Linked DNA regions of Homo sapiens: region 2 is linked to region 1. The links come from fine-mapping of genetic effects on gene expression. Tissue or cell type: whole blood. Region 1 holds a variant in brackets; the other region holds the start of a gene. All regions are shown on one strand. Distances are from middle to middle. Region 1 holds the start of LOC105376384 (a long non-coding RNA gene). Region 2 holds the start of IL15RA (interleukin 15 receptor subunit alpha).

Region 1 (11,492 bases):
AAAATGCATTAAAAGAATCACCAAGGATGGCCGGGCAGGGTGGCTCATGCCTGTAATCCCAGTACTTTGGGAGGCCGAGGCGGGTGGATCACCTGAGGTCAGGAAATTGAGACCAGCCTGGCCAACATGGTGAAACCCCATCTCTACTAAAAACACAAAAATTAGCCTGGCGTGGTGGTGAGCGTCTGTAATCCCAGCTATTTGGGAGGCTGAGGCAGGAGAATCACTTGAACTCTGGGGGTGGAGGTTGCAGTGAGCCGAGATCATACCCCTGCACTCCAGCCTGAGAGACGCAGCGAGACTCCAATTCAAAAAAAAAAAAAAAATCACCAAGGAGAAATGTTCCACACAAAGGAGGAGAAAGAATGGGAATGCAGAATTCCACTGGGGCTCCTCCATCCTGTTGGGGTGCCTCATCACCCACTGACACAGACGGGCTGACCTCCCCTCTCCCTGCTCTCCCCACGCGTGGGCACCTGGCCTGGGCGTGGCCTCCAGGGCCTCTCAGCTAGACTACAAAGCTGTTGAATACAGAGAATGAAGAGCACAGAACTCACAGGGCAGTGGCCAGCAGTGGCCTCAGAAGCTCTGACTGGCTGCTGGGCCTCCTGTTCTGGGCTCTCCAGGCGTCTTTAGGTCCTAACCATATTCCAAACCTAAGCCTCCCATTTTCCGGGATTCTATGAGCCCCTCGTATCTTTCCAATACATTTTTTTTTCTTTATAACAGATTCTGTTTTCATTACTTGTCACTGAAAAGTTCCTAGCTGATATGAAATTCGGTACCAGGAGTGGGTATTGCAAATTATGGAGAAGAGGGGAGATAAGGAGTGTCTGCGGCTGGTTATCTGCCTTAGGGACGAGAGAAAAGAGTGAATGTTCTGATGATATGCAGAGACAGGAATGGAGCGGCCCAGGGAATTCGGTAATTAGTTCGCCAGGAGGTGCCTGGGATGTCATGCCTGCTGCAAGCCTGGCTCTCAGAGACTATGTTGCGTCCATCCTGAAATCGTATGGATATGAGAAATCTGAGCCCATAGTGGGTAGCTGCTTTTAATGTCACTGAAAAACTTAGAGAATAAGAAGTTCAAATCTCTAAAGTCTGAATTCAAGCCACAGGCTGAAACCTAAAGACTGCCTAGAACAACGCGGAATTTCATTCCTTACAGATGCGAGGCCAGGATATCTGAAAACCCATCTTAAGAGTCTGAGCCTTTGGCTGGGCGCCGTGGCTCATGCCTGTAATCCAAACACTTTGGGAGGCCGAGGCAGGTGGATCGCTTGAGTCCAGGAGTTCAAGACCAGCCCAAACAACATGGCGAAACCCCTGTCTCTACAAAAAATACAAAAATTAGCCAGTTGTGGTGGCATGTGCCTGTAGTCCCAGCTACTCAAGAGGCTGAGGTGGGAGAACTGCTTGAGCCCAGGAGGTAGCAGTGAGCCGAGATCATGCCACAGCACTCCAGCCTGGATGACAGAGGAGACACAGTCTCCAAAAAAAAACAACAGTCTAAGCCGTCAAGTTGTTGGAAGAACATTAGCTGAATCCATGGCCCCAGCAGGTTTCCCAGCTGAAGGGAGAGCACTGATTGGAGAAGGGCGAGGTTCCTGTACTGGATTAAAAATGTAGGGGGACATTTGGAGGACTCACAGGATCCCCCACCCTCCCTTGTCCTCAGAAGCAGCCCTCTGTTCTGCCTGACAATGCTGCAACATTGCCTCCTGCTCGAGGGGGGCATCTTGCAAAAGGAAGTCTGTTCTGCTGACAATTTCCTCCCCCTGTCCCATTCTGCATGGGGAGAAAACTTTGCTGAGAATCCCAATCAGACCCTCAGGATCCCAGGAATCAGCCTGTTCCGTGGAAACAAGAGCTCCCCAAGGCTGGGCCGGGCCCTGCTGCAAGCACCTCCACCCCCACGTCCCACCTGCGGCCTCCTCACAGGCCAAGCCCGTAGCCAATGCCCAATGCCCCTGTCCTTCCTTCACAGTCTCCTACATCCAACTCACCTTCCAGAACCAGATCAAGTTTACCTTCTCCAGGAGCCTCTGTTGTTTCAGTTTTGGAGGGTTTTTTTTTTTGAGACAGAGTCTCGCTCTGTCGCTCAGGCTGGAGTGCAGTGGCACGATCTCCACTCACTGCAACCTCCGCCTCCCGAGTTCAAGCGATTCTCCTGCCTCAGCTTCCTGAGTAGCTGGGACTACAGGTGCGTGCCACCATGCCCAGCTAATTTTTATATTTTTGATAGAGACAGGGTTTCGCCATGTTGTCCAGGCTGATCTGGAACTCCTGATCTCAAGTGATCCACCCGCCTTGGCCTCCCATAGTGCTGGGACTACAGGCGTGAGCCACCATGCCCAGCCCCGGAGCCTTGGCTAATGACTCAGTTGTACAAAATCATTTGCCTCTGAGCCTTCATAACACTTATTATCGGTGCTATTCATGTGGCATCTGCAAAATACTATCTTTGTGCAGTGGAAAGAAGATAGAACTTAAAAGCCTGAGTGTCGAGCATCCATTCTACCCTTTGCTGAGCATCCATTCTACCCTTTGCTGGCCCTGTCACTTGGAGACACTACACACACGGACATTGCCTCATCTTTGTAGTGGGGATGACGGCACATGCACTCCCTTCCCAGAGGCGTGAGGGTCACAGGAGACCCTGGCGTCTGTCTCTCCCCTCGCTAGCCACTAGAGATCCTGACAGTTAAGCCTGGTACTAATCCTCAAGAAGTTTACAGCCTGGTCAAAAAGAGAAGCATACCGGAACAAATATGAAACAAAACCTTACACCACAAGCACACACACTAATGGGACACGAGCCCAGTAAAGGCAGAAATGGCTCCAAGGCCTGGAAGCTTGAGGAATGCAGGATGTGAGTTGGAAGGATGGGTGGAATTTAAATAAACGGGCAGGGAGCATTCTAAATGGTGGGGGGGGGCGGTGGAGGCAAAAACCCAAACAGGAAATTGAGCAACACGTTCAGGAAAGACAGAGCATGGCTGCTGGGCAGCCAGGTCAACCGGACGGCAAGGCAGGGGTTGGCCGGGGAAGCACTGCGCCGCCCCTGCATGCCCTGCATCCTCGGGTCCTGGGAGGGCTGCTCAGTAACTGGAAGGAAAATGAAACTGAAAAAGAGCAAGGGTCCCGTAGGATTGAACACAGTTGGTGAAACTTGGGCCGTCTGCCTCAAGTCCCCGCTTGGCAAAACCACTCCCTCCTGGTGGACGCCCTCACCATGAAGGTTAGTGCTTCTCTTTCTGAAGCTGTGTCTTCATTCCTCTGGGCAGAGAGCCAACAGTCCTAGTTACAGAAGTGTATAACTGGGTGCCATGGCTCACCTAGGGTCCCAGCTACTCAGGAATCTGAGGTGGGAGGATCGCTTGAGCCCAGGAGCATGAGGCTGCAGTGAGCGGTGATCGCGTCACTGCGCTCCAGCCTGGGCGACAGAGTGGGACTCTTGTCTCCAAAATAATTCAAAAATGGGGTGTAATCTTCAAAATCTCCTTGGAGTTAATGCCACCCAGAGGGTACTCAAATTGCTGTCAGTGTCCCGGGGCTGCAGTGGCTGCAGGTGTTTTCCAAGTGTTCTGGGAAGCCCTGGTGGCTGCAGAGGCACCTGAGGGGCCACCACAGGCGGGAGCGGAGAAGGAACTCTGGGTGCCCATCCCCCTCCTGAGTGACCACAGCGGCTGCATTTGTTAACTGGAAGTAAAATTAAGCCTAAAGAA[T/C]TCCATGGCTAAGAACATCTGAAAGCCTTCCATGCTATTAAATATTTATTTTATTGTTCATCCTGGACTCCATAGGCAGATGCTTTAAAAAAACAAACAAACTGATCTTTTGGAAGAGTTCTAACTCCAACTCTTCACACAGTGGTAGTGGAAATACTATGGGTTTGGGATTGAACTTGAGTTTTCATCCAAGCTCTGCTCTGTGATACTGAGCACAGTGGGCCCAGCCCCGTGACTCTTTAGAGCCTGTTTCTTCATCTGCAAATGGCGGCTGTCATCTGCCTCCCAGGTTTGCTGTGAGGACTGAAGGAATTCACATACACAAAGGCCTGATAGCGTCTACCTGCAGGAGGCTCCTAATAAACGTTGAGTTCACTTCCTTAATGAGGTATATTTACTTACATGGTAATCAGCACCTGCCCCTTCCTTCGCAAATACATTCCCACTTTTTTAGGATTTATTATTTCACCCAGCCGTGTGCATCATGGAAAGCTGACCTCATCCCAAGCTCCAGGAAATAAAACCCTGATGATTTGAAGCCATTCTTCCTTACTATGATTGGCTTAGGAGTGGGCAGGTAGCCCAGTTCTGACCAACAATATGTGAGTCAGCTGGAGAAGCCTGTGGGAAAGGCTTTCTTGCGCCTCTTCCCAGACAAAACCAGGTCCAGCTGCTTGTTCTCATGGTCCAATAACAAGCTGCAGACAGAGTGGGGAAGAAGGGAGTTTATTTCTGGTTACAGGGAGAAGGTCAGAGTAACTCACCAGACTAATTTAAAATTATAAGTTTTTTTTCAGTGCTTATACACATTTAAACCATATGCCTATGTGCAGGAGTACACCTCCAAGCTGAAGTATATTCCTCTGTTTAATCTTTCACTAGGGTCTGGGGTCTGGAAAATTACTTCAGAGCCTTGAAACAATTACTTCATTTTTTTTCTTTCTTATTTTAGAGGGAGGGTCTCACTATGTTGCCCAGGCTGGTCTTGAACTCCTGGGCTCAAGCGACCCTCCTCCCTCAGCCTCCCAAAGTGCTGGGATTGCGGGCGTGAGCCGCTGCTCCTGGCCCAATTACTTAATTTAAAGTGGATCATGGTACAAGGTCCACAAGAACGCCTCCATTATTTTAATTAAACTCTAAGGTCTGGGAGAAAGCCCAGGTGGGGTCTTAATCGACTTGTTTTTACACTCTAGCCTTTGTATTAAGGCACCAGTTTCTCCAATTTTCCTCGTTTAATTTATATATTCCTCAGAGTTATAGTAAGGTGTTGGTGAGGCTGGCTGCTCTGGTTGCTAAGAGAGACCCGGCCTGCCACACTCCTAAGAGACACAGAAGACCAGCCTACCCTTCCCTTGCCTCCCGTGACACTGCCCTGCAGGTGGCTGGCCAAGAGAAGCCTGCCCGGCGACGCTGAGGCACCGAACATGAGCAGGGGAGGAAGGAATGCCTGGGAGCAGCTGAGCCGAGCCCCTGCCACCAGCCTCCTCCGCACGCCCGTGGAATCAGCACTTTCTGCTTCCCGCCCCTGAGAGCCTTGCTCTGGGGCCACTCACAGCCAATTAAGTGGGGATGTTGTAAGAGACTCTAAAATACGTGGAGCTGGCTGAGGACGCGGGACCGACCCCATTATGTGTGTGTGAGGCTGATTAAAGTGTTACCTGTCACCAGGTGTCGCCAATTCTTGGTGAAGCTCTCTCCATGTGACCTCCATGCTACTTATTTTTTATTTTATTGTTCATCCTGGACTCCAAAGGCTGATGCTATTTTTTTTTTTAATGTGATCTTTTGGAAGAGTTCTAACTGCAACTCTTCACATAGTGGTAGTAGAATATACCATGGGTATTAAAAACTAAAGCATTTCTTAATCTGTGGGGTCCAGATTAGGAAGACATGTATTAGGAAAATGATTACTTTAAAAAAAATAAAAAATTCAGGCCAGGCATAGTGGCTCACGCCTGTAATCCCAGCACTTTGGGAGGCTGAGGCAGGTGGATCACCTGAGGTCAGGAGTTCAAGACCAGCCTGGCCGACATGGTGAAACCCCGTCTCTACCAAAAATACAAAAATTAGCTGGTTGTGGTCACATATGCTTGTAATTCCAGCTACTTGGGAGGCTGAGACAGGAGAATCGCTTGAACCCGGGAGGCAGAGGTTGCAGTGAGCGGAGATCTCACCACTGCACTCCAGGCTGGGTGACAGAGTGAGGCTCTGTCTCAAAAAAAAAAAAAAAAAAGAAAAGAAAAAAAAATCAGAACCACTGAATTGTACATTTAAAAAAGGAAGAAAAGAAAAATCCAGGATGTCAGCACTGTGCTGGCCGCTTCCTGGGGCCCTCAGTGAGTTCCTTTAAAAGACAGGCTTAGGGTGACAGAGGCCAGCCTGGAAATGGACAGGAAACGCCAGCCTTTCCGCTGCGGTCCAACTTGGGCTGACGCCCTCATCGCAACAGGAGAGCCCTGCAGGGTTGAGGCAGGAGGGTGACCGGCGTTAGTCTTCATTGTAAGATTGCAGGTCCCTCTACATGGGAGCGAGTTGGGCCAGGGCAGAGGCACAGAGCAACATAGACTACAACTGGTCCAGGAGGCAGAACGGTGGAGGGTCGCGGGCGGGTGGGTGGTGCACCCTGGAGGCCGCGTGGAGCTTCCCAGTGAACTGGCATGAAGAAAAGTATCACAGCCCGATGGTGGTGCTGTTTCTGGAGGTGGGGAAGGGTGCGTGGAGGAGCCAGCCAGGCTCGGAAGGAAATCAGGGGCTGCATGTGGGACATGGCAGGGCTGAGATGTCACGAAGACAGCAAATGGAGTGATCGACTGGCGACCTTGGCGTTTGAGTGGGAAGCCCCCCTCCCTCCACCTAACCTACCTCTCAGCCCACGCCACTAGGGATAAAACACACACAGGTCCCCAGTGAGGAGGATCGCAGGGGACGGCACCTCCTGGGCCCTCATGGAGAACCTGTCCCTTAAGTAGGCCAGGCAGAGGGAGAGCCCCTGCCGGCTAAGGGAGCCCTGCCCCCCACACCAGCCCAGCTGTGCAGAGGTGCCTTGGCCAGGGGCGTGCGTGTAGCACTGTCTTCATGTCTGGGCAAGGAGCTGGAGGAACCCTGCCTGCCTCGGTTCAGACGTCTCTACCGCACCCACTCACTGCAAATGTAGAGTGATCAGCTTCCAGGCTCTCGGTGTACCCCACATTGCTAAAGCCAGGGGTTCAGGGTGACTAGGAAGGACTGAAGGGCAAGGATCAGACTTGAAAAACATGTTAAATTGCTAATAGTCTGATTCTAGGGGTGTCAAAGTCCCTTTGTGATACAGTGAGTTGCTCCCAGACACAGACCAAATGCCACTACAGGACGGAAGCTGGGCAGGCAGCGTGACAGTGACCAGCTTCCCAGGCAGGAAGGTCCCACGGGGGTGCTGCACTGCCTTAAGTTTATTAAGCTGTGTCTGAGTCCACCATGCGACGTCTCTGCCCTCATGCCTGGGCTGCTAAAGGAAAAATACCAGCTAAAAGGATGGTGTTTGATGTCAACTGGGAGGGTGCTGCCCGGCACACCTGTGTTTTCCGTCACCTTCCACTCCATTCCCTTCTATGTCCATCCCAAACGCTAAACCCAGCACTTTGGGAGACTGAGGCAGGTGGACAGCTTGAGCCCAGGAGTTTCAGACCAGCCTGGGCAACAGAGCGACACCTCATCTCTACAAAAAATAAGCAAAAATTAGCCGGGCATGGTGGCATGCACCTGTAGTCCCAGCTACTTGAGGGGCTGAGGTGGGAGGGTCACCTGGGCCTGGAGGTCAAGGCTACAGTGAACTGTCACTGCACCACTGCACTCCAGCCTGAGTGACAGAGTAAGACCCTGTCTCAAAAAAACCAGAAAATTATTGGGTGAGAGCAACCTAAACTTCCTCCCTAACCACTTACAACGTACCCCTTTCTCCTTCATCTCTCCCGTCCCAATCCCTCTCATCTGGCTTCCATCTCTCCTCTCTGAATTTGCTTCCTCTCAACACATAACCCTGCACAAACCTCTCTCGTTTTAAAAGCAAAAACCCCTCCCTAAGGCCACGTCATCCCCTATCCACTTCTTGCCTCTTGCCAGCCTTGCTTTCTGAGAACTAGTCTACGTGGTGTCCGTATCTTCACCTCCCACTGGTATTTTATGGTTCTATCATACAGACACATAGTTTAGAGCCAACAGTTATGTAAGACACCTACCAAAAAGCTCCTCCACCTGCCCGTTCCCCCTCCCAAAAGGAAACTTTTAGAAATCTTTCTGCTGAGTGTCTCGGTGTGTGTTATGCATCTCCAAGATATCTCTAAATGATGGGCTCACATGGGCTTCTGCTTCCATGTTTGAGTTTCAGGCACTGTGACTGACTTCCTGCCGCAGAGGCTAAGATTCGGCTCGTTCACTCCACATGTGCACACAGCTCCTACCTGCAGAACACGCCCACCCTTATGAAGGCCATGAAAGCAGGTACACTCCACTGAGCTGGTGGTGGGGGGGGTCAATTACAGTTCTCTCCTACACAACCTGTCGCCTTCCAGAGGACTAATCATTGCCTTTTTCCCCCCAGGCTACGTCCTGCGCTCTGTCACCCAGGCTGTGGTGGTCAGTGGTGCAATCATGGCTCACAGCAGCCTCAACCTCCCAGGCTCAAGCCATCCTCCTGCCCCAGCCTCCCAAGTAGCTGGGAACAAGGCATGCGCCACCACACCTAATTTTTTATACTTTTTGTAGAGATGGGGTCTGCCTATGTGGCCCAGGTTGGTCTTGAACTCCTGGGCTCAAACAATCCTCCCACCTCAGCTTCCCAAAGTGCTGTGATCACAGGTGTGAGCCACCACGCCCGGCCAATGTGGGCCTATTTTCACCCATTGTCCTGGGCATTTAATGAGTCATTTCAATCCAGAAACCCTTACCATCAGTTTCAGGTAATTTTCATAATTAAAAAAAATGTTTCGGCCAGGTGCGGTGGCTCACGCCTGTAATCCCAGCACTTTGGGAGGCCGAGGTGGGCAGATCACGAGGTCAGAAAATCGAGACCATCCTGGCCAACACAGTGAAACCCCATCTCTACTAAAAATACAAAAAATTAGCCGGGCATGGTGGCATGTGCCTGTAGTCCCAGCTACTCAAGAGGCTGAGGCATGAGAATCGCTTGAACCCAGGAGGTGGAGGTTGCAGTGAGCCGAGATCAAGTCACTGCACTCCAGCCTGGGCAGCAGAGAGAGACTCCGTCTGAAAAAAAATTAAATTTAAAAATTCCTTAACTCTGTTGTCCATTTTCTCTTCCTGCAATTCCCATTCACAGATGCTCAACTTCTTAAATTGGTTCCCTAGTTTTTTTTTTCTTTTTTTTTTTTTTTTGAGACAGGCTCTCGCTGTGTCACCCAGGCTGGAGTGTGGTGGCACAATCTCAGCTCACTGCAACCTCCACCTCCCGGGCTCAAGCCATTCTCCAGCCTCAGCCTCCTGAGTAGCTGGGATCACAATCGTGCACCACCACACCCAGGTCATTTTTTGTAGATGGGTTTTGCCATGTTGGCCAGGCTGGTCTTGAAGTCCTGAGCTCAAAGCGATCCACCTGACTCAGCCTTCCAAAGTGCTGGGATTACAGGCATGAGCCACCACGTCCAGCCTCTAACTACTTCTCAATCTTTGTTTTTGCTCTACTTTCTAGATTCTCAACTTATTATTTTAACAGTTCTACTGGGTTTCTTTTCATATTTTTTGCTCCAAAATTTTATTTTATTTTTATTTTTTGAGACGAAGTCTTACTCTGCGTCCCAGGTTCAAGAGATCCTCCTGCCTCAGCCTCCTGAGTAGCTGGGATTACAGGCACATACCACTACACCCGGCTAATTTTTGTATTTTTAGTACAGGGTTTCACCATGTTGGCCCAGGCTGGTCTCGAAATCCTGATCTCAGATGATCCACCCGCCTCAGCCTCCCAAAGTGCTGGGATTACAGGCGTGAGCCAATGCGCCCGGCCCCAAATATTATTTTATACATATCTATCCTGCTACTCTATGGAATGCACTACCTCCTCCATTCTCTGAATGTGTTAAAGATATTTAGATGTTTTCTTCTCCCTGTACAGACAGTTTGCTCCAAGTTGATTCTTTGGTTTTGACCTCTAGCCTTCATCTTAGGGGCCGGGTCATCTTCAGATGTTTGATGATCCTGATGCCTCCAGGATCACTGCTGCCTCCTTCCTGTTGTCTTTGCCCTTAAGGGTTAAAACACACACACACATACACACACACACAACTTTTACTGCCCTTACAGTATGGCTTCAGAAAGAAACCATAAATGAACACATACTTCTTAGCCCTCAAATTTTTCACTCACATTTTAGGCCACAGTGGTCGGCTTCTCACCTAACTGAAACTGATCAGCTAATGTCAACTGACCTTGATAGTGCTGGTTAAACACCTGCCCACCCTTGTTTATTTGGTCTATTTACTGCACTGGATGCTGAAGATCCCCTTTTCCTGAACTCCCTCCTCTCCGGAGCTCAGTGGTGCTCCATCACGAGGCTCCTCTGGATCAGCTGTCGCTCTTCTTAAACCCTCTTCCTCTCTTCACCCCAAGCCTCGTGTCCGCCGGCTTTGCTTCTCGGCCCTCTGCTCTTCTCATTGTCTAAACTCTCCTGGATTAACTCGGCGAAACCCTTCAAACTGCACCACCACCTACACACCGACAACTCTATAAAGTCCCCAGGTCCAGCCAGGCCCTTTGCTGCAGGACAGATGTGTTCACCCAACAGCCTCCTAGACGGTTCCACTCAACATGCTGAAAACCAAACTGATCACTGCGTTTACACAAACCTGCTATAGCTCCCATTTTCCCTGTCTCAGTGAAGATGACCTCTACCACTGAGTGTCCCTATCATGATCCCAGTACTCCAGAAATCCGACCGATTCTACCTTCTAAACATCAAGAGCAGAAGTTTCCCAACTTAGCATGCATGAGCATCACTTGTCAGGCTTGTTATGTACGAACAGCTGGGCCTCAACCCTGGAGTTTCTGATCCTGTAGGCCTGGTGTGGGGACTGAACATTTTTATTTCTAACAAGTTCCCAGGTGATGTTGCCGCTGCTTGCTGGAACCACACTTTGAGAACCACTGATCTTCGCATCCGTTCCCTCCTCACCAGGCCCCACAGGCGCTGTGGTCCAGCCCATCTGGGGTCATTTCTTGCTGAGATTATGATCCTGTTAGCCTTGTAATTTATCTGACCTCCTTAAAACATTATTGTTATTTGAGACAGTGTCCCGCTGTCACCCAGGCTGGAGTACAGTGAGCTGTGAGGTGACCACGGCTCACAGCCTCAACCTTGGGCTCCAGCAGTCCTCCTGCCTTGGCTGGATTCAGTGCTGGGGTTACAGGTGTGAGCCACTGCTCCCGGCCAAAGTCTCATTTTTGATGCCTCAGTTCCCACCCAAGACATCACGTCTCATACTCTGCTTCCTGTGTCTTGTGAACAGTGACAGTGCTGTAGGAAAGAGTAAGCTGGAAAAAGAGAAGGTTCAGAACGACAGTGCTGACGCAGACATCACACAGCGGTATGCCAGTGCTATGGTGCCTGTTTAATTGAAATCTTGTAATAAAAGTTTAAATACATAAATTTTTTTTTTTTTTTTTATCAAAAGAACATCCCCCACTTCCCTGACCAGATACATCCAGAGGGGAGGCAAGTGGAGACTGGCTGTCTGTAGGGAGTGGAGAAATGGCAGGTCCAGCTTGGGCTGGTGTCCT
Region 2 (11,305 bases), 36 kb before region 1:
GGCTCTGGAGATAGGGTCTTTACCAAGACAATCAAGTTAAAATGAGGTCACTGGGATGGGCCCTGATCCAATATGACTGGTGTGCTTATAAGGAGACAGAATTTGGATGTCAACATGCACAGAGGCAGGATTCTGGGAAGAGACACAGGGAGAGGACAGCCATGTGGCAGGAGCAATGGCAAGGGAATGACAAGGACAGCTGGCAAATGCCATAGCCTGGATGTGGCCAGGAAGGACTTTCCCCTAGAGCCATCAGACACCTGCTGACACCTTGATTTCAGCCTTCCAGCCTCCAGAACTACGAGACAACAAATTTCTGTTGTTTCAAGCCACACGGTGTTTGGTACTTTGTTGCGGCAGGCTTAGGAAATTAATACACACAGAAAAGGCCAGGCGTGGCTGAAGTGTGGATGGGAGGGTCATACATTCTAAAGAGAGACTCCCATGTTGCTCCTAAAAAGGACCAAGCTGTTCATCCATGCAGCAGCTTGAATGGATCTACAGAGAATTGCACTGTTTGCAAAAGCTGACCTCGAAAGGCTACACGCTGGATGATTTCATTTATATAGCAAACGTTCTTGAAATGACAAAGTTGCAGAGATGGATAGCATTGTGGCTGCCGGTGCTGAGGGAAAGTGGAGAGAGGCGGATGGCTGTGGCTATAAAAGGGCAGCACAAGGCAGCCTGGTGTGCTTCATCTTGCCCTGCATCTTGGCCGTGGAGGGGCCACAACCCAACCGCCTGCAATGTGACAAAATTGTGTAGAATTACACACGCACACACGCATGTAACACTGGCAAAATTCGAATGTCTATATGTTGTATCCATGTCATTTCCTGGTTGTGATATTGTACTTTAGCTATTCAACATGCTACCATTGAGGAAAACTGAGTCAAGGGTATACAGGATCTCTCTGTATCATTACAACTACGTGAGAATCTCTACTTACCTCCAAACAAAAAGTTTTTTAAAGATACCATCAAGTCATATCAGTTTAACCCAGGAAAGTAGTCCCTATGGAATATGGATGAAATTAAGTATTATTTCCATCTAAATACAATTCAAGATGTTGGATCCTTTTGTTTTTTTAAGAGGTAACTGACAATCCGAAATAAAAATTCGAAATTTCATCTGGATGAACAAACATAAGAATATTCTTTAAAAGGATAGCAAAGAAACCTTGGGGAGGAGGAACTTACGGGGCAGACCATCCCCTGCAAGATTTGGAAACATGACAGAGCTATAATAACTGGCGGAGACTGTGGAACAGAGTAAGTATCCCAGTAATGGACTAATTATCTAAGTGAAAATAATTTATGGAAACAGTATTTCTAAAAAGGTTAAAAAAAAAAGAAGAGCCTTTGAGTGTACAATGGCATTCTAAATCAATAATTGGCCTTGGTCTTTTCCAGTTTCCTGCTAAAACATTCAATTTATACAATGAGGGAAAGTCTAGACCAGCACTGGACACTACCTGAAGCTTTTAGGAGTTATGGCAGAAAATAGCGCAGATAATAGCAGAGTATAGCAGGGTGTAACAGGGCGTAATACTATCTAACAGTTAAAATTAATGACCTACCACTACATGTATCAATGGAGAAATTAATGCTAAGGGAAAAAGAAAGTTTTGGAATGACATGACAGTGCAGGTTGAGTCTCCATTATCTGAAATGCTTGGAATGTGAAATATTTCAGAATTCAGATTTTTTCAGATTTTGGAATATTCACATATACACAATGAGGTATCTTGGGGATGGGACCTAAGTCTAAATATAAAATTCATTTATGTTTCATATGTACCCTATACACATAGCCTAAAGGTAGTTTCATACAATATTTTTAATAATTTGTGCATGAAACAGTTTGTGTCTATTGAACGCCCAGAAAGCAACGTTGTTGCCACTGCAGTCACCCACGTGAACATCTGCGGATGATTGGCATCACCACCATTCCTGACTCTGACTCTGAATTTATGGGCTACCCTTACAAACAATCGTTTTCTTACACTTATTCACACATGAGTACTTAACAGTAAAAAATATGACATAGCATTAAACCAGTGAAAACATAATGTGTTCAGGGTCACTAAGCAGCCCAGTGGTGTCATCAGAGACCTGGATCAGCCGACAGACAACAGCAACCACGACAGTGGGCTTCCATCTCCATCAATGATGCTGTGTTCTGATTAAACGATACTGTAGGCCGGGCTCGGTGGCTCATGCCTGTAATCCCAGCACTTTGTGAGGCCAAGGCAGGAGGTTCACCTGAAGTCAGGAGTTTGAGACTAGCCTGGCCAACGTGGTGAAGCTCCATCTCTACTAACAATACAAAAAAAAAATTAGCCGGGTATGGTGGCAGGCGCCTTTAATCCCAGCTACTCAGGAAGCTGAGGCGGAAGGATCACCTGAGCCTGGGAGCTCAAGGCTGTAGTGAGATGGAATCACGCCACTGCACTCCAGCCAGGGCAACATAGTGAGACCCTGCCTCAAAAAAAAAAAAAAAAAAAAAGGAAAAGTTCACTATAAGCTAAACCTTGAGCCTAGAGCACGTGCAGAACCCTGGAGAAGTTCCTACCCCCAAGGCAGGAGTTCGTAGCTAATAGCTTCTTGGGCTTTTGGTGCAGACTGGCTGGAGATTGGAGAAGCTACATCATGAGAAAGGGGCTTTTGTTCTCTTTTCTGGGCCGAATCAGGCAGCAGCAACTTGTAACCATCTGGCCATCTGCTGGTATCTTGTAGGGCAGCTTATCTTGCAAAAGCACTAGGTGCTGACGCAGGAGAGTTGCAAGCAAAAGAAGACTCTGCAAAAGGGTCCTTCAGGGCTTCGCACAAGGGGACAAGTTGGTACAGGGTCCTCATCTTGCTTACCCTGCCTCGAACACCCACCGTTCTAGTCCTTCAATGAGCCCATCGCATGCTTTCATCATGGCGCCTGCAGGTGCGTGTTCTGCTGTGATAACAGCATTATGTTCGTCATCACTGTTAGCACAAGCACCTTGGTTCAGAACCGTTTTGCCATTGTTCATCATCGGTCAATGAACGAACAACTGGAGCCACAGTATAGATGTTAAAAACCTGTATATCCACTTCGTCCAGCATGCTGACACACTCTGAAGGTATATTTTTTGCCTGCATAGGGAGGTCAGACATCATTTTTTTCCCACTTCACATATGGAATACTTCCATGTCATCACCTTGTTCATCATCATCACTGAACATAGTCGCAGACCAGAGGTTGTGCCATGCACGCATGGCTGTGTCGTTAGTCACTGAGTTCCAAGCATTGGAAACAGCATTGGCATCCTTCATGCTAAACACCTTTTGAAAACTTCCACACCCACCCCTCTGTTCACTGCTGCTAGCGTGCAATGTTTCCATATTTACTCTCCATTGATCTCCATTGATCTAAGGATACCCTGGTCACATGGCTGAAGTAATGAAGTCACATTTGGAAGAAAGCCCATGGCATAAACATTATTTTTAATGAGAGTTTCAGCTGGAGGATGAGCAGAATGGTTGTCAAAGAAAAACAAAATCTTGCAGTCATCATCCAGTCCACCCTCCCTACAGTGACACAAGCCACTGGTCCAAAATGTTTGTGAGACTAATCAGAAAAGATGTCCCTGATTATACATGTAATCTCAGCTACTCAGGAAGCTGAGGTGGGAGGATGGCTTGAGGCCAGGAGTGTGAGACCAGCCTTGGCAACATAGTGAGACCTCATCTCTAGAAATAAATAAATATCAGCCAGGTGTGGTGGTGCACACCTATAGGTGTGCTGTGTTGCCCAGGCTGGTCTCGAACTCCTGAGCTCAAGTGATCCACCCACCTTGGCCTCCCAAAGTGCTGGGATTACAGACGTGAGCCACTGCACCCGGCCAACATTTTCAACATCATTAGACCAGAGAGCAGAGAATAAGCAAAAATAGCACAGTGAGAAGTGCACAGAGGCGGGGCTTGGCTCCATATGGGGAATTGTCGGGACCTACCATGGGTGTGTTCGACCTGCACACAGGCCATTTTACCACCTTTTGTGTGCGTGCTTGCATGGGGGAATCTGGGCATGCACAGAAAAGATATCTCTCAGCTGAAGGCGGCTGGGAGAGTCTTTTTTCCCCTTGGGGATGCTGAATAAACAGTGTGTTATGTGCCTGTGTTTTGATTGCCACCCACCCCACGAGATCAGGTGTGGAATTTTCCACTTGTGGCGTAATGTCAGAGCTCAAAAAGTTTTGGATTTTGGACCATTTTGGATTTGGGATTTGGAGATCAGGGGTGCTCAATCTGTATGGTACTGTTCATATGAATTTTTTTTTTTTTTTTTTGAGACCGAGTCTCTTTCTGTCGCCCAGGCTAGAGTGCAGTGGTGTGATCTCAGCTCACTGCATCCTCCACCTCCCAGGTTCAAGCGATTCTCATGCCTCAGCCTCCCAAGTAGATGAGATTACAGGTGCGTGCCACCACACCCTGCTAATTTTTGTATTTTTAGTAGAGATGGGGTTTCACCATGTAGGCCAGGCTGGTCTCGAACTCCTGACCTCAAGTGATCTGCCCACCTCAGCCTCCCAAAGTGCTGGGATTACAGTCATGAGCCACCACACCCAGCCTTAATCACATGAATTTTTAAAAATGTAAGCCATCCTGTCCGTTGCACATGGACATACACATGGAAAAGGGGCCTAAGAATGCCTGGGAATGATGAGTACCAGTTTCAAGAAACATTTACCTGCGAGAAAGTGGAAGACGGAGGAAGAGAAAGATGCAAGAATACAAAGGGGCTTCAACTTTATCTGTAATTTTTTTATTCCAAAAAATATCTGAAGCAAACATTGAGCAGACATATTAAGTTTTGACAGGATGAGGCAGTAGGCTCATGGATATCCACTATATTTATTGATTGCTATAGTTCGAAGTATATTTGAAATTTACATTATTTAACAACGTATATATATGTAATGAAATAGAGTTCTTTAAGCATACCAAATTTACAATTTTATTTTCAAATTTTAAAATTTACTTTTGGTCAGAATGCAGTAAAATGGGTACTTTAACACAATCAATGCTAGTTAGAAGGTATATTGATACAAGACTTTTGGAAAGCAAGATAGAAATATTTGTTTAAAAGAGAAAAAGCCTTTAAAAATATTCCCTACCAGTTGACTCAATAGTTCCACTGTAGGAAATCTATTCTAAGCGATCTTAAATTCACAAGATTTTGTAGAAAGACATTTATGACAATGTTATCTTTAATATTAAAATAATAGAGGGGATGTTAAACTATGATAATTTGCAGCCATTAAAAACTTTTACAAAGAGTCTGTAATAATGGAGAAATCTCTACTTCATAAATGTCCATAGAATAAAAAATGCTCTATTGTATACATGCTATGCTTAGCCTGCATTCAATAAACCCTCAATATATTTGAGAATATTAAGGAATATTGTTAATTTTTAAATTTGATCTTATCATCTTGAGATTTATTATTAAGTATTGAGAGAAATTGAATAATGTGGGATTTCCCCAGTTGGAGTAAGGGTGGCTATTCCTGCTTAGAAAAAAAGAATGGACCTTGTGTGGTCACTGCCGGATGGTAGGTTCATTATTCTTTCTACTTTTTTTTTTTAAATTTAAGAGACAGGAACTGGCTGTGTTGCCCAGGCTGGAGTGCAGTGGTGCGATCTCAGCTCACTGCAACCTCAGCCTCCTGGGTTCAAGTGATTCTCCTGCCTCAGCCTCCTGAATAGCTGGGATTACAGGCGCCCGCCACCATGCCCAGCTAATTTTGGTATTTTTAGTAGAGATGGGGTTTCACCATGTTGGCCAGGCTAGTCTCGAATTCCTGACTTCAGGCGATCCACCTGCCTTGGCCTCCGAAAGTGCTTGGATTTCAGGAGTGGCCACCGCGCTCGGCCCTAAATTCTTTTATTTAACTTTTAAGTTCAGGGTTATAAGTGCAGGTTTGTTATAAAGGTAAACCTGTGTCTTGGGGGATTATTGTACAGATTATTTCGTTTTCAAAGAGAATTTGCAAGTATGTCACAAAAGCCTCATAAACACGTTGTGAGATTTTAAGAGGCAATGACCGAGGCTTGGAGATGTCTCGTCCTGTCCAATGTCACCGCTAGACCTGAGAATCTGCACTTGGGAGCTTACAGACCCGGTTCTCAGGCTTCACTTGAGACCCCAAGAAAGAAAAAAACCCACCAGCCAAAGAGGAGGATGGCAGCCTGGAAGAACCTAAGGAAGCGAGGCTCAGAGGTGAAGCACTGTGGCTCCTCTCCCCCTTCTCCCCCCTCCGCCCCCTCTCCTTCTAAGATGAGGCATTTTCTAGGGGAGCAAAGCTGCAGCAGGAATTCGGCGAAGTGGCGGAGCTGGGGCCCCAGCGGGCGCCGGGGGCCGCGGGAGCCAGCAGGTGGCGGGGGCTGCGCTCCGCCCGGGCCAGAGCGCACCAGGCAGGTGCCCGCGCCTCCGCACCGCGGCGACACCTCCGCGGGCACTCACCCAGGCCGGCCGCTCACAACCGAGCGCAGGGCCGCGGAGGGAGACCAGGAAAGCCGAAGGCGGAGCAGCTGGAGGCGACCAGCGCCGGGCGAGGTCAAGTGGATCCGAGCCGCAGAGAGGGCTGGAGAGAGTCTGCTCTCCGATGACTTTGCCCACTCTCTTCGCAGTGGGGACACCGGACCGAGTGCACACTGGAGGTCCCAGAGCACGACGAGCGCGGAGGACCGGGAGGCTCCCGGGCTTGCGTGGGTAAGGTCCTGGGTCCCCACCGGGCACGGCCCATGCGTCCCGGGGACAGGGGTGGCTGTGCGGTGCCGCGGCGGCCGGCGGGGCTCCTTCCCCAGCAGGGGTGGGGACGCTGAGTCACGGATCTGTCACCGCTTTGCACCTCTCCGAGCCCTCGGGGGCCAAAGCAAAAGCGAAAGCGAATGCGACTGGCGGGGCGGCAGGTCCCAGAGCAGCGCTCGCCACCTCCCCCCGGCCTGGGCAGCGCTCGCCCGGGGAGTCCAGCGGTGTCCTGTGGAGCTGCCGCCATGGCCCCGCGGCGGGCGCGCGGCTGCCGGACCCTCGGTCTCCCGGCGCTGCTACTGCTGCTGCTGCTCCGGCCGCCGGCGACGCGGGGTAGGGAGCTGGGAGCAGGGGCGCCCGGGCGGGACTTGGAAGGGGGCCGGGACGTGGAGCTGGAGGGAACCGGGCGCCCCATCTCCCCGGGCCGTGCGGGGGCGTCGGTGCCCTCGGGAGCGCGGTGCGCGCAGGCCCAGGCCGGGGAGGGGACGCGGCGCCGGGCAGGAGGGACACGTGCCGGGAGCCGGGGTCGCAGGGAGAGCGCCGCCGCTGCGCCCGGGTCACCCACGTAAGGGAGCGGGCGGCCTGGCTGGGGTCTCCGAGGCCGAGGTCAGGAGCAGTTCTGAGAAGCCCGTTTTGGCCACGGGAGCGCGGAGCCGGCGGCGTCCAGCAGTTTGGAGACACGGGCGAGTGCGCTTCTCCCAGGCGCCTGGACTGCAGGGCGGGTGTTGCATAGCACGCGGTCCTCGGAGGGGTCCGGGAGAAACTACTCCTCCCGACTCCCAGGCAAAAGTAAATTATGTCAGTGGGAGCTGGGAGGGTGGGGAGGAGCTGTGTCCCAGGGGGAAACGCGTCGGGCAAGTTGCACACCTGGGGACCTGGAAACAACTTCCAATTCTTAAGCGATCAGGAAACCAGCAGAGGCGGTCGGGACCGGATGGGGGTGGGGAGTGGGGGCCAGCCTGGAGTCTACACTCGCAGAAAAAGGGGGAAGAGATCTGTGATCGCTTGGTGTATTCGAGAAGAAAGCGGGTCGCGGAGCTCTGATCTCGGCAGGGAGGACGGAATGAGCGATTCCTAGGGGTTTTGTCCCGGCAGCCAGAGGAAGGAGGAAAACAGTAGCAGGGTCTAGCTCTATCCTTGTCAGCGCTTCTTTATCTTTTTATAGTCAGGGAGCTCTTGGAGGGTCTGATGAAAGCTATGAACCCCCGGCCCCCAGAAAAATGCATGAATGAACATAGTTACAAAATGTGCATATGATTTTGGGGTCAAAGCCCCACTGAAGGCCATCCATGGACTCTCTATAGGAATTAGTAACGCCATGATCTGTGTGTGTTTTTAAGCGAGACCCTGAATAATTTACATCCAGTCGGGCCAGTCTGCCCAGGCCCTGGCCAAAGCCATTCCACGCACAGTTGCTGCTGCCTGGTGTGGCCTGAACGCCCCCCCACCCTCTGCCACCCCCACCCCAGCTCTGCGAGGCTTCTTGAAGTTTCGTTTTCATGAGACTCTGATGCTTGGATTTCCCCCCACATCTGAGAAGCAGAGTTAGTTGGTGACCGGTTGGTTCCTCCCAGTTGGCTAGCAGTGTCACAGGACCCCATAGCTGGCAACTGGGGCAGCTGGATTACACAATATGAAAGTGAAATGCAGCCTTAGTCAAAGCCCAGCAGAGAGGAGGTGTCTTCCTTGAAGACTGAGTGGATAGGGGAGCACCACTGTGAGATCTCTGATCTCATCAGCTGCACAGCCTTGCCCTTTGACCTTAGAAAGATGTTGCTACCTTCCCTTCCCAAAGCTCTCAATGTTTTTTCTTTTTCTTTTTCTTTCTTTCTTGTTTTCTTTTTTGAGACGGAGTCTCACTCTGTCACCCCGGCTGGGGTGCAGTAGCGCGATCTCAGCTCACTGCAACCTCCGCCTCCTGGGTTCAAGCGATTCTGCTGCCTCAGCCTCCTGAGTAGCTGGGATTACAGGCGATCGCCACCACGCCCAGTAACTTTTGTGTTTTTAATAGAGACGGGGTTTCATCATGTTGGTCAGGCTGATCCAACATGGTGATCACTCCTGACCTTGTGATCTGCCCGCCTCGGCCTTCCAAAGTGCTGGGATTACAGGCGTGAGCCAGCTTGCCCAGCCGTTGTTTTTTTTCCCTTTAACAGCCTTATTGAGGTATAATTGACCGACAATAAACTGCATATATTGAAGTTGCACACTTTGATAAGTTTGGAGGTAAATGCATACATACTCATGAAACCACTGCCACCACCAAGAGTGAACACAACTATCACTCCCAAAGACTTCCTCATGCCCTGCACAGTCCTCATCTCCCACCTCGCCCATCTCCCAGGCAATTTGATGCACTTTCTAAAATTTTTTATAAATAGAATTACACGGTAGGAACTCTTTCTTGTTTGGCTTTTTTCACAGACAGTAATTATCCTGAGAATTTATCCATGTTGTAATTTGTATAAGTAGTTCATTAGTTTCTACCATTGAGTAGTAGTATTCTACCCATGGCTAGCCCATCATTTGTTTAGCCATTCACTTGTTAAGGGACATTTGGGTTGTTTCCAGTTTGGGACTATTACAAAGAAAGCTGCTATGAACACTGACATACAGGTTTCTGTATGGACACATGTTTTCATTTCTCATGGGTAGAGAATGGTTGGGAGTAGAGTGGCTGTGTTATATGGCAGGTGTATGTTTAATTTTTTTTTTTTTGAAACAATGTCACACCATTGTTTCCCAAGCTGGAGTGCAGTAGCATGATTATAGCTCACTGCAGCCTTGACCTCTCAGGTGTTTAATTTTTAATTTTTATTTATTTATTTTTAATTTTTATTTATTTTTAATTTACTTATTTTGAGACAGAATCTCACTCTGTTGCCCAGACTGAAGTGCAGTGGCTCCATCTCTGCTCACTGAAACCTCTGCCTCCTGGGTTCAAGCGATTCTCCTGCCTCAGCCTCCTGAGTAGCTGGGACTACAGGCTTGCACCACTACGCCCGGCTAATTTTTGTATTTTTAGTAGAGATGGGGTTTCACCATGTTGGCCAGGCTGGTCTCGAACTCCTGACCTCAGGGGATCTGCCTGCTTTGGCCTCCCAAAGTGCTGGGATTACAGGTGTGAGCCATTGCACCTGGCCTCAGAAGTTTAATTTTTAAAGAAACTGCTAAACCATTTCCCAAAGTTGTTATACGATTTTACATTCCCACAGCAGTGTAGGGAAGTTCCAGTTCCTTCACACCCTTGTCAGCTCTTGGTATGATGAATCTTTTTAATTTTACCCATTCTACTAGGTATGTAGGGGGTCTCCCCTTGTAGTTTTAATTTGCATTTTTCTACAGCTGGTGATGTTATGTGCTTATTTGCCATGTATATATCTTCTCTGGTAGTATCTGTTTATATTTTTTTTGCTCTCTTAAAAATTGAATTGTATCAGCTGGGTGTGGTGGCTCACACCTGTAATCCCAGCACTTTGGGAGGCCAACGCGGGCAGATCACTTGAGGCCAGGAGTTCGAGACCAGCCAGGTCAACATGGTAAAACCCCTTCTCTACTAAAAATACAAAAATTAGCCAGCTGTGGTAGCCCATGCCTGTAATGTCAGCTACTCAGGAGGCTGAGGCAGGAGAATCGCTTGAACCCTGGAGGCAGAGGTTGCGGTGAGCAGAGATCGCGCCACTGCACTCCAGCCTGGGACACAGAGCGAGACTGTCTTTTTTTTTTTTTCTGACTCTGTCTTATGTATAAAAAATTGAATTGTATCATTACTGAATTTTGAGAGTTCTTTATATATTCTGGATACGAGGCCCTAATCAGGTATATGATTTGCAAATATTTTCTCAGATTCTGTGGCTTATCCTTTCTCTTAGCAGTGTCTTTTGAAAAGCAGAAGTTTTTAATTTTTATGAAGTCTAATTTATTAATTTGTTATGTTGTGTTTTGGGCTTTTGGTGTCATATCTAAGAAATATTTGCCTAGCCTAAGGTTACAAAGGTTTACTTCTATGTGTTCCTCTAGAAGTTTTATAGCTTTAGGGTTTACATTTATGGCTGTGATCCATTTTGAATTAATTTTTGTTTATAATGTGAGGCATGAATTAAAGGTTGTTTTGGGATTTTGTTTGTTTCTATATATGCATATCCAATTATTCCAGCACCCTTTATTGAAAAGATTATCTTCACTGACCTTCTCTTATACCTTTTGAACATCAGTCAGCCATATGTGTCTAAGTTGGTTGCAGTATACAAAACACCACTACACAAAAATCAGTTCTATTTCTATACATTCACAATGAACAATTAGAAATTAAAAAACTTTAAAAAGTCATTTGAAATAACATTAAAAAGCATTAGATACTTACGGATAAATCTAACAAAAGATGTGAAAGACATCTTTCATATATGGAAAACTACAAAGCATTGCTTAGAGAAATTAAGGAACAAAATCAATGGAGAGATATACCATGTTCATGGGTTGGACAAATCAATATCACTAAGGTGCAAAGTCTCCTTCT

What was found.
Region 2: IL15RA starts here. The variant in region 1 is fine-mapped to the expression of IL15RA in whole blood (TOPMed, PIP above 0.99).

What each region holds. Positions count from the first base shown.
Region 1 is chr10:5,937,404-5,948,895 of GRCh38, reverse strand. It overlaps LOC105376384 (a long non-coding RNA gene), which reads left to right and starts at 2,982. Exons shown (of 2, transcript NR_188180.1): 1 at 2,982-3,241; 2 at 11,387-11,492. FBH1 (F-box DNA helicase 1) reads right to left here. Exons shown (of 21, transcript NM_178150.3): 21 at 11,303-11,492. RefSeq lists an enhancer at 3,223-3,781. The variant T/C (reference allele first, on the strand shown) is at 3,729.
Region 2 is chr10:5,973,222-5,984,526 of GRCh38, reverse strand. It overlaps IL15RA (interleukin 15 receptor subunit alpha), which reads left to right and starts at 6,984. Exons shown (of 7, transcript NM_002189.4): 1 at 6,984-7,122. The coding sequence starts at 7,035. LOC107984200 (a long non-coding RNA gene) reads right to left here. Exons shown (of 3, transcript XR_001747348.2): 3 at 10,463-11,305. RefSeq lists silencers at 2,547-2,841, 6,221-6,890, 6,981-7,360 and enhancers at 8,251-8,330, 8,461-8,730.